Homo sapiens: one gene and its partner. The protein of the gene in region 2 purifies or fractionates together with the protein of the main gene of each other region. This does not show direct contact. Each region holds a gene or a part of one and is shown on either strand. Other genes may lie near its edges.

Region 1 (4,448 bases), about 33 Mb from region 2:
AAAGACTGTGATCATAGGAACGAAAAGATCATTAGAAGACCCCATAAATGAAAACTTAGTTTCATTTGTTTTTCCTTTGGGCAGCTTTATTGAGATTGTTTGTCTCTTTAAAATACAGAATGGTTCCTGTCATCGATTCGAAATTGTGGGTAGAAAATATGACATGTACCTCTTTTAAAAATACGTCTAAAATTAAGAGCACTTGATTTCTTTTTTTGAAACAGAGTCTTGCTCTGTCACCCAGGCTGAGTGCAGTGGCTCAGTCTTGGCTCACTGCAACCTCTGCTTCCCATCTTCAAGCAATTCTTGTGCCTCAGCACGCGCCACCACGCCCGGCTGATTTTTGTATTTTTAGTAGATACGGGGTTTTGCCACGTTACCCAGGCTGGTCTTGAGCTCCTGACTTCAAGCAATCCACCTGCCTCAGCCTCCCGAAGTGCTGGGATTACAGGTGTGAGCCACCGCACCTGGCCTAAAATGTTCCTTAAATTCCTTAGAGACTAAGTAAAATTACTAAATGTATTAAAATTAACTTGTTTTCTGTTAATAACTACCCATTATTGCCTGTTTACCGTGTGCCAGCTCCTTACATATATTACTTCTTATCCTTCCTGTAACTCTGTGTAGTTAAGAGGTACTTTCTACTTTATAAATGGGATAACTGAGATTCAGGTTAAATAATCCATGCAGAGACACCCAGCTAGTGAGTAACTGATTTAGGATTGAAAATTGGTCTTTCTTTTGCCTTGTAAAGTGGGAAGTTGAGTTTTTAATTTCGTTTTTCACAAGAAAATGCCAGTTTTCAAGGAGTTGGACTCTTTACCCATGACCTTTGGAGATATTGGTGTTAAGTTTCTTGTTGACGTACGTCCATCACTTTTTCGATAGGTCCCACTGGTCAGGTGAAATTAAGCCATAAGCCAGCACAGGCATAGCAAATATTTCTATAGCCACCTTACCTGTGTCTGCTTCACTCACTGATCATGGCTCTCTGGTGGCAACCTTAGAGTACTCAATCTTGTATTTGAGAGCCATTACCAATTGTTCACAATTGGCACTGGGGACAAAAACTTTTTGCCATTTCATGGCCAGAGGTTTTTTAATCCTCATCACACTTTCTCTGCAGGTTGGATTTGATTTATGCCATTTTCCTCATCAGAAGCTTGGGTTTAATTGTAGATGCTTAGTAAATATTCCTCATTAATTTAGGTCAATGGGCCGAGTGTGGTGGCTCACCCCTGTAATCCCAGCACTTTGGGAGGCTGAGGCGGGCGGATTGCCTGAGCTCAGGAGTTTATGACCAGCCTGGGTGTGGTGGCATGCACCTGTAGTCCCAGCTACTCGGGAGGCTGAGGCAGGAGAATTGCTTAAAGGGGGAGTGGGGGGTGGAGGCTGCAGTGAGCTGAGATCACGCCACTTCACTCCAGCCTGGGTGACAGAGTGAGACTCCATCTCAAAAAAAAAAAAAATTTAGGTCAATGAATTGTACTTTTAAAAATAAGTGGTTAATTTTTAAGTCTTAGCAAACATGCTCTTATTTTTATTTCATTCATATTTTTAGGCATTATATATATATATTTTAAACTTTGAGATGGAATATCGATTGTTGAACTACTCTAAAATGTGAATGTATTAGTATTTCATGGGGGCATCCTGATTTTTTTGTTTTTGAGTTCCGCTCGTTTAGATGATGTAATGTATGGCTTATTCTATTTCCAAAAATGTTACTTTAGCTATATGAGGTAATTGCATTTATGAAGAAGAGATCTGAAAAGTATTCTTTATATTTTAAGAAAAAACTTTGTTGGTATATTACTAAAGATGATACTTCTCTTTCACATGATTAAATATTTGCATATGCGTGGCTGGGTGTGATGGCTCATACCTGTAATCCCAGCATTTTGGGAGGCCGAGGTGGGTGAATTACTTGAGGTCAGGAGTTTGAGACCAGCCTTGACAACATAGTGAGAACCCAAAAAATAGCCATGGCGGGCATCTGTAATCCCAGCTACTGGAAGGCTGAGGCAGGAGAATTGCTTGAACCCAGGAGGCGGATTGCAGTGAGCCAAGATTGAGCCACTACACTCCAGCCTGGGCAACAGAGCAATACTCTGTCTTGAAAGAAAGAAAGACAGAGAAAAGAAAGAAAGAAAGTTTTGCCATGTTCTAGTGTTTTGTCTGATGTTAACTGGGTCATTTAAGAAATTGTAGTATAATTTTAAAGTACCTGGGGCCAGGTACGAATAACTCACACTGTAACTCCTTTTTTCTCCCCCCCTTTGTTTTTGAAACAAGGTCTTTCTCTGTTGCCTAGGCTGGAGTGCAGTGGCATGATCACTGCTCACTGCAGCCTCAAACTCCCAGGCTCAAGTGATCTTCCCACTTCAGCCTCCTGAGTAGCTGGAGACTGCAGGTGTGCACCACCACACCTGGCTATCTTTGTATTTTTGTAGAGATAGGGTTTTGTCATGTGCCCAGGATGGTCTTGAGCTCCCTGGCTTAGTGATCCCCCCATGCCCAGCCCACACTGTAGTTCTTGAGTTGATATCTCATTGAACCTGTCAGTGGTGTACAATTAAATTCTTGAAGAAAAGATAACCTTTAAAATTAATGACAATTGTGGTTCAAGCTCTTTTTATATTGCAGTGTCCTGAACGTGACTACATGACTGAATAACCTTTACTAATTCATCTCTCTTGTGTTTTAGATTCTTTCAGTGACCTGTATAGTTCCTATGTAATCTTTTACTTCCTGCTGCTGTCAGTGGTAATAATAATAATAAGTATTTTCAATGTGGAGTTCTATGCAGGTGAGTTTTCAAATGTTAACCTTCTTAGAAATATGCGAATTTATTTAACTAAGGGAAGACTTAGTACATTTTATATGTGAATGTGTTTTGTGTCAAAAATTTAAAAACGTATACAGAATCATATGCTTCAAATGTTGTACCTTAAAATTTATTTGGGTGCTAGTTTCTGTTTTAAAAATATTTTTAGACTTTTTAGGACAAATATTATATGATTCTACTTATACGAGGTATCTGGAGTACTCAAATTCATAGAGAAAGAAAGTAGAATGCTGGTTACCAGGCGCTGGGGGAGGGGGAGTGGAGAATTGCTGTTTAATGGGTAGAGTTGTGGAAGATGGAAAAGTTTGGGAGCTGGATGGTGGTAGTGGTTATACAACAATATGAGTGTACTTATGCCGCAGAACTGTGTACTTAAAAATGGTTCGAATAGTGAATTTTATTATTTTACCACAATAAAAAAATTTAGACCTTTTAATAGTTCATAACTAGTATTAAAGCTGTGATTTAGCAGATACATTATGAAAAGAATTCCTTTATAGGGAAGACCAGGTGATTTCTAAGTTTTTTTTTCAAATATAATAATCTATAATACTGTGATTAAAAAAAAACTTATGTTTTGCCTTGGAGAATCACCTGCTGGATTCCAGAGCTTTTAATTTTTCTGTTTCTCTTCATATTCTTTCTGCCTTTTCAGATTCCTTGAGACTGCCTTTAAGATACAAGTTGTGGCAGATTCACATAAGGAAAAAAAGATACAATAAGAAGCTTTTCCTGACTCTTATTTTTTTACTATAACATCATTTTCCTTTTTTTTTTTTGAGACAGAGTCTCGCTCTGTCGCCAGGCTAGAGTGCAGTGGTGCGATCTCAGCTTACTGCAATCTCTGCCTCCTGGGTTCAAGTGATTCTCCTGCCTCAGCCTCCGGAGTAGCTGGGATTACAGGCACGCGCCACCACGCCCGGCTAATTTTTGTATTTTTAGAAGAGAGGGGGTTTCACCATGTTGGCCAGGATGGTCTTGATCTCTTGACCTTGTGATCTGCCCTCGGCCTCCCAAGTGCTGGGATTACAGGCGTGAGCCACTGCACCCAGCCCATTTTCCTTTTTTTAAACTTAAAAAAAATTTTTTAAATGTACATGTTCCATATGTGCTAACATGTCTAAACCTTAAATTAGTTTATCATAATGTCATGTTTTAGATTTTACATTTCATTGATTATATGAATATTCTGTTTATTTATTTATTTTATTATTATTATCATTTTTGAGACGGAGTCTTGCTCTGTCGCCCAGGCTGGAGTGCAGTGGCGCGATTTCGGCTCACTGCAAGCTCTGCCTCCTAGGTTCACGCCGTTCTCCCGCCTCAGCCTCCCAAGTAGCTGGGACTACAGGCACCCGCCACCATGCCTGGCTAATTTTGTTTTTGTATTTTTAGTAGAGACGGGGTTTCACCATGTTAGCCAGGATGGTCTCAATCTCCTCACCTCGTGATCGGCCTGCCTTGGCCTTCCAAAGTGCTGGAATTACAGGCATGAGCCACCATGCTTGGCCTATTTATTATTTTTTTTGAGAGAAACAGATGCGGTAGGATCATAGAATACTCAGACCGGGAGGAATTTTTTTTTTTTGAGACGGAGTTT
Region 2 (5,269 bases):
TATGCATGAAAAAGTACATTTTAAATTGTAAATCATTTCAGAGGTATAAGTTTTATTACAGTTCATTTACTGAGCAAATAAATACTGCTTCCATTATAAAAGTATTAAACAACTATGTACATGCGTGTTAAGTATTGATTGGAGGGGAAACAATTTACATTTTGATGCCTGAGCAGTATTTTTTATTGTTCCTTTTTTTAGTGCATACATTTAGATATCAAACAAATAAAATAGTTCCAAGGAATAATATAAAAGCCAATTGAGCTGAATCAGACGATATTCCCTAGGGGAGTAGGCTCTGTTCTCCAGGCTGGCCCACAGGGTGGGGCAAGAGAGAAACATTCTGCAAAAGTACATTTTTGGACCATAAACAAAAAATGAAAGGTGCAACCATGGATAAGCCATCAGAGCATGAGAAGTTCATTTGGATCCAATCCAACAGGCAAAACAAGAAGACTTCTCTGGTATCCCCCAGTGGTGGACTTGAACCAAAACCCTTTGAATGAACTTTTGTTTTCCTGCACATCATACATGATTGCCATGGCAAGATACTGATGGGCTACCAAACTTAAGACTCTTGAAAAAAGATTAACTTTGAAACAACAGGGCAAAAGAATATAATTTTGTTAGCAGATCAAACACTTCGGGCTGCCAAGAGGCAGGTCTACTGCCATTCTAAGAATGTAATTTAGGAAAATAACCAAATAGGAAAGATGGAACAACAAAGGAATTTGTTTTTCAAAGGATCCCAAGTGCTGCTGTTTACCTGGCTGGATGCTATACCATCTATAATGTATGATGACGAGGCTCTGAATGCTGTATGTGCAGAATGAGAACTTTTCTCTATTCTGATTCCACTAGGCTTGCAGGCTGGGTCTTCTTGGGACCAAATTACACACGTAAAAGGCATTGGCTGTGCTAGAACTGAGCTGTGCCCTCTCTTCAACCCAGCCTCTTGGGTCTAGGGTCATCTTATAGGTCACAAGTTCAGTTTCCAATTTTTTCTTCATAACTGGGGTCCAAAGGGAAAAAGTGGGTTCGCTGTCACTGCACCTCCCTTCTGATTTTCATTTGCTATTTTAACAGTCCAATCTGATTACTTCAGTGAATAATAAAGCTAGTGACTCTTAGAGGAATATAAGTATGTCATAAGGACATAGAAGCCTGCTCCTGTATGACCTCAGCAAGTGGAAGCCAGGACCAAGGTGTCCAGCGGCTGCCTCCCACCCTTTGCTCAAACATAGACACTATGAGGAGTCTCACAAGGACTCTCTTTTTCCATGTTAACCTGTAGCTATTCAGTATATCAGTGACTCTATAAGAATTTGAGAATATTGTAAGATTAAAAAAAAATTGAACTCAAGGAATCTTACAGATAAGCTTAATATTGATACTACCGCATCATATCACAACAGCTGTTGAGAAGATGATAAAATGTCATGACATTCCTTGTTACCTGCTCCATCATCAAGGAGTCTCAGCGTAACAGGATCTCCAGTCTCTGGCTCAACTGTGGCAGTGACAGTGGCATTAAGAATGGGATAAAATCCCTGTTTCACATTGGCATAAATCATCACAGGATGAGGAAAATGGAGGCTGTCTCTTTCCACAAAGGCTTCCACAGTGGCTGGGGGCACAGCTGAGTTGGAGGCGCGAGAGGTCACTGTCACTTTCAGGGCTTGCAGAGAATGATGGGTATTGTTCAGGGTGTAAGTCCAGTGCCCAGGCTGTAAAACAAGTCTTATTGTTTTGGAAAGTGTGAAAAAAAAATCAACCCTAATTTTAAAGCATACATCAAAACTTCTGGAGAATTTTGCTCTTGTTTTGTTGATGTTGCACTTTTTAAAATACTACAAAAAGATGCCAGGAAAAGTAGCATTGGTTAAGGGATGAATAAATTTGTATTTACATGGCTTTCATAGCATAAGTCACCTTTATTTCTAGATAATTCTTTAGGGAATTACACCTCGAATTTATTTGGAGTGAGGGAGGATACATCTTGATTCCCATTTTTAGAACATAACAATAATAGTGTCCAGCTTCAAAGTACTTTACAGATATTAATCTGAGCCCCTTCCCCAAAAAGGCGTTTAAATGTTTTTCATTTCTTTTCATAACTGAGAAAATTACATCAAATTAATTGGACCATTATAATTTATGTGGACACCGTGGACTAAAAAGGCAACAACATCCTTCTTTCACTCCACTTCCCAAAAACTCCACACTCAGAAATCTCAATCAACAAAAAACACATACACTACTAGGGACCAAGAAAAGGACCTACTATTTTTAATAGGTCAGGATTATACAATATCTAATTTGGGTAATTTATAGAAATACTGCTAAACACTACTCTTGCCTATCTGCCTGGGAAAAACCTACAAAAGAAAATCTGAAAGAAAAAGACTAAAATTACAATATAGCAGAAATTCGTCCTTTTGATTAAGCTATACATATATTGCTTTTCCCTGACTTCTGCTGCTGCTCCTTATCAAACCCCCAGAAGTAACAAGTGAAACACAACAAAGCAGAAGGAAGAACAGAAAAGCAAGGGGTTGAAGCGTAACTCAGGGTGGAGAGTTCAGATGCACCACACCCTAGCCATCTTTCTTCATTGGGATTCATGAGCTTCACTATTTTCCATTAAGTTATGATTCAAGGACTATGTTTTTTTGTTTTTGTTTTTTGAATCATAACATTAGTGACAGATGCATGGCAGGAACTTCCACATCAAAAAGTTCTCTGAGTGTAATAAATGTTTTGATACAGGGCATCTAATCCAGACCAAGAGGTCAGGCAAGGGGAGCAAGAAGTAGGTAAAGTGTCCCTGGCCCTTATACACAGGTGTGAAAAGAACATGATGAATTTGGAGAAAAGTTCAATAGGAGCAGAGCATCGAAGAAGTTAAGAGAGAAGCTTGGGTAGAAGCCAAAACATGAAGGGTCTGGTATGTAAGATTTACCACTTGGGCCTGGTGACAGAGCGAGACTCCATCAAAAAAAAAAAAAAAAAAAAAAAGTTCCCACAGCTCACCACTACAGAAGCAGAGAAGACAACTATGCAGAAAACAGAGTTGGTGGCAGTCAGGAGGAATGCAGCTGGTCTGTTGGACCCCTACTGGATTGGGGGAGTGCAGAAGACACTGGTGAAATCCTCTATACTGAAGACCTGCAGTTGGGAGCAGGGGGAGTCCATGGGTCTGCTGATTTTTTTTCCCTATTTAGTACTAATGTGTGTGTGATCTTTGTTTTACAAAATACCTTTTGGGTTTTCTGCATATTTTAAAATTTTTGTACAGTTTTGAATTCTATAGATCGTCTTGGAAGGATACTGTGTGATGAGCCAGGCACACAGTAATTGGAGACTTTTAATGTGTGTAATATTTCATAGATTGCATGCTATTAATCGTCTGTGAGGGTAGTATTTTTTGTTTTATTATAAGTTTCCCTCATTTTTTTATAAATTAAAAGATGGTTGGTATTAGGAATTTCAAATGAATGCAGAAAATCTTACATGCTCTGTACTATTAATATTATAACAAAGACGATCCAAGTCCAAAATCTGACCAATAAAGCAACCATTTTATCAAGATAGAGGATTCTACCATGGGAGAGGGGATTCTTCCCTCCTGAAGTTTGTGTGTCCAATCCCCTTAAAAAAAATGAATAGTTGTCTTTTCTTGTCATATTAATACTCGAAAGTCCATGGTGATATTAATGAAAGTACACTTTATTGTTGCCTTTGACCTTATGGCCAAGGCAATAAATCAGAAACAAAAATAGTGCCAATGTGTCAAAATCTACAACTGAGAGATTCAGCCTCCCATCTGGAATAAATGCGAATCTTCTAAGCTAAAAAAAAAAAAAAAAAAAAAAAAAGGTTAACACTTGGATTTTATTCTGAAACCACCAAGGAGGTTTTGAACAAAAGACAGACTGATTTGTGCTTCAGAAGGATCGCTTTTATAGAGGTAAAGAATGGACTGGAGGGATGGCAGTTCAGAGTCAAGAAGGCTAGTTAAGGGGCTGTCAAGAAGGTGGTGGGAGCGGTGGCTCATGCCTGCAATCCCAGCACTTCAGGAGGCAGAGGCAGGCAGATCACTTGAGGTCAGGAGTTTGAGAACAGCCTGGCCAACATGGTGAAACCTCATCTCTACCAAAAAATACAAAAATTAGCCAGGCATGGTGGCAAGTGCCTGTAGTCCCAGCTACTCGGGAGGCTGAGGCAGGAGAATCGCTTGAACCTGGGAGGTGAAGGTTGCAGTGAGCTGAGATGGTGCCACTGCACTCCCGCCTGGGTGACAGAGCGAGACTCCATCTCAACAACAACAACAACAACAACAACAACAACAACAAAAGTGGGGGTGGGGCAGCATGTGAGGAGGCACTGAATTCAGGCAGTGCAAGAGTGAATCTGATCAACTTACAGTTCTCCTTAGAACCATCAGTGGTTCCCTTTCACTTTCAGGATTCAAGCCCCTGTTCACTTTACTGTTGTGCAAAGCCCTTGCTAATACAGCTCCTGTTTACCTGTCTAGCCTCACTACTCCCCTCTCCTTCCTTTGCCTACATCCCTAACTTATAGATTACCCTACTCTATTGAACTACTCTAGTTCTATGAACAGCCATGTTCTTTTTATCTGAGTCTTTCTATATGCTGTTTCCTCTGCCCACAATATCATACCCACCTCTGGCCTGTTATTCCTTATATTTCCATTTTGATGTCTTTGCTTCCAGGAAGCATTCTTCCTTCCACCCTCTTGTATGTTCTGATAGTACCCTGTTCATGCTCTTACCATGGCATTTTATTGTAAAGTACCTGGAACAAAACCCAGCACACCCAGTAGATGCTAAAAACCACATGCATTGCATGTATTCATATTATAAATTCTAAGTAGAGATTTTTTTCTAAGCATATAGAAAAGTGTGTTTGTATGGATTATGTAAAGAAATATGTAGGCTAGAAAAACATTAATTGTAATACTAGTGGAAATACTAATTTTCAGTGTTGAAGTATTTGGTGTCTAATATATAAAACTGGGAATATACCTTAGTTATTCCTCTTAAATTTTTAATATTCACAAAATGGCCTCATAAATTTAAAGTAAACTTTTGATATATTAAAACAAGATTTTCTTTACACAATGCATTTAATCATGTGATTCAGCTGAAAATCATAAACTTGGTTGAACGTTGTCCTTAGGAACAAACTCACAACACCTACCTTAGCTGTTCCTGGAATCCAAAGACTAGCTGTCCGAAAAGTTAGA

Evidence for each region. The genes of interacting proteins can lie anywhere in the genome.
Region 1: the proteins of CLCA2 (region 2) and NDC1 purify together in Homo sapiens (affinity purification with mass spectrometry; one large-scale study listed by BioGRID and IntAct). This does not show direct contact.

Annotation. Positions count from the first base shown.
Region 1 is NC_000001.11:53,830,851-53,835,298, reverse strand, and holds part of NDC1 (nucleoporin NDC1), read left to right. Parts: intron 1-2,707; coding exon 2,708-2,809; intron 2,810-4,448. UniProt on the Homo sapiens protein: Component of the nuclear pore complex (NPC), which plays a key role in de novo assembly and insertion of NPC in the nuclear envelope.
Region 2 is NC_000001.11:86,443,966-86,449,234, reverse strand, and holds part of CLCA2 (calcium-activated chloride channel regulator 2 preproprotein), read right to left. Parts: coding exon 5,224-5,269; intron 3,852-5,223; coding exon of another isoform or gene 3,714-3,851; exon of another isoform or gene 3,709-3,713; intron 1,728-3,708; coding exon 1,457-1,727; intron 1-1,456. UniProt on the Homo sapiens protein: Plays a role in modulating chloride current across the plasma membrane in a calcium-dependent manner, and cell adhesion. Involved in basal cell adhesion and/or stratification of squamous epithelia. May act as a tumor suppressor in breast and colorectal cancer.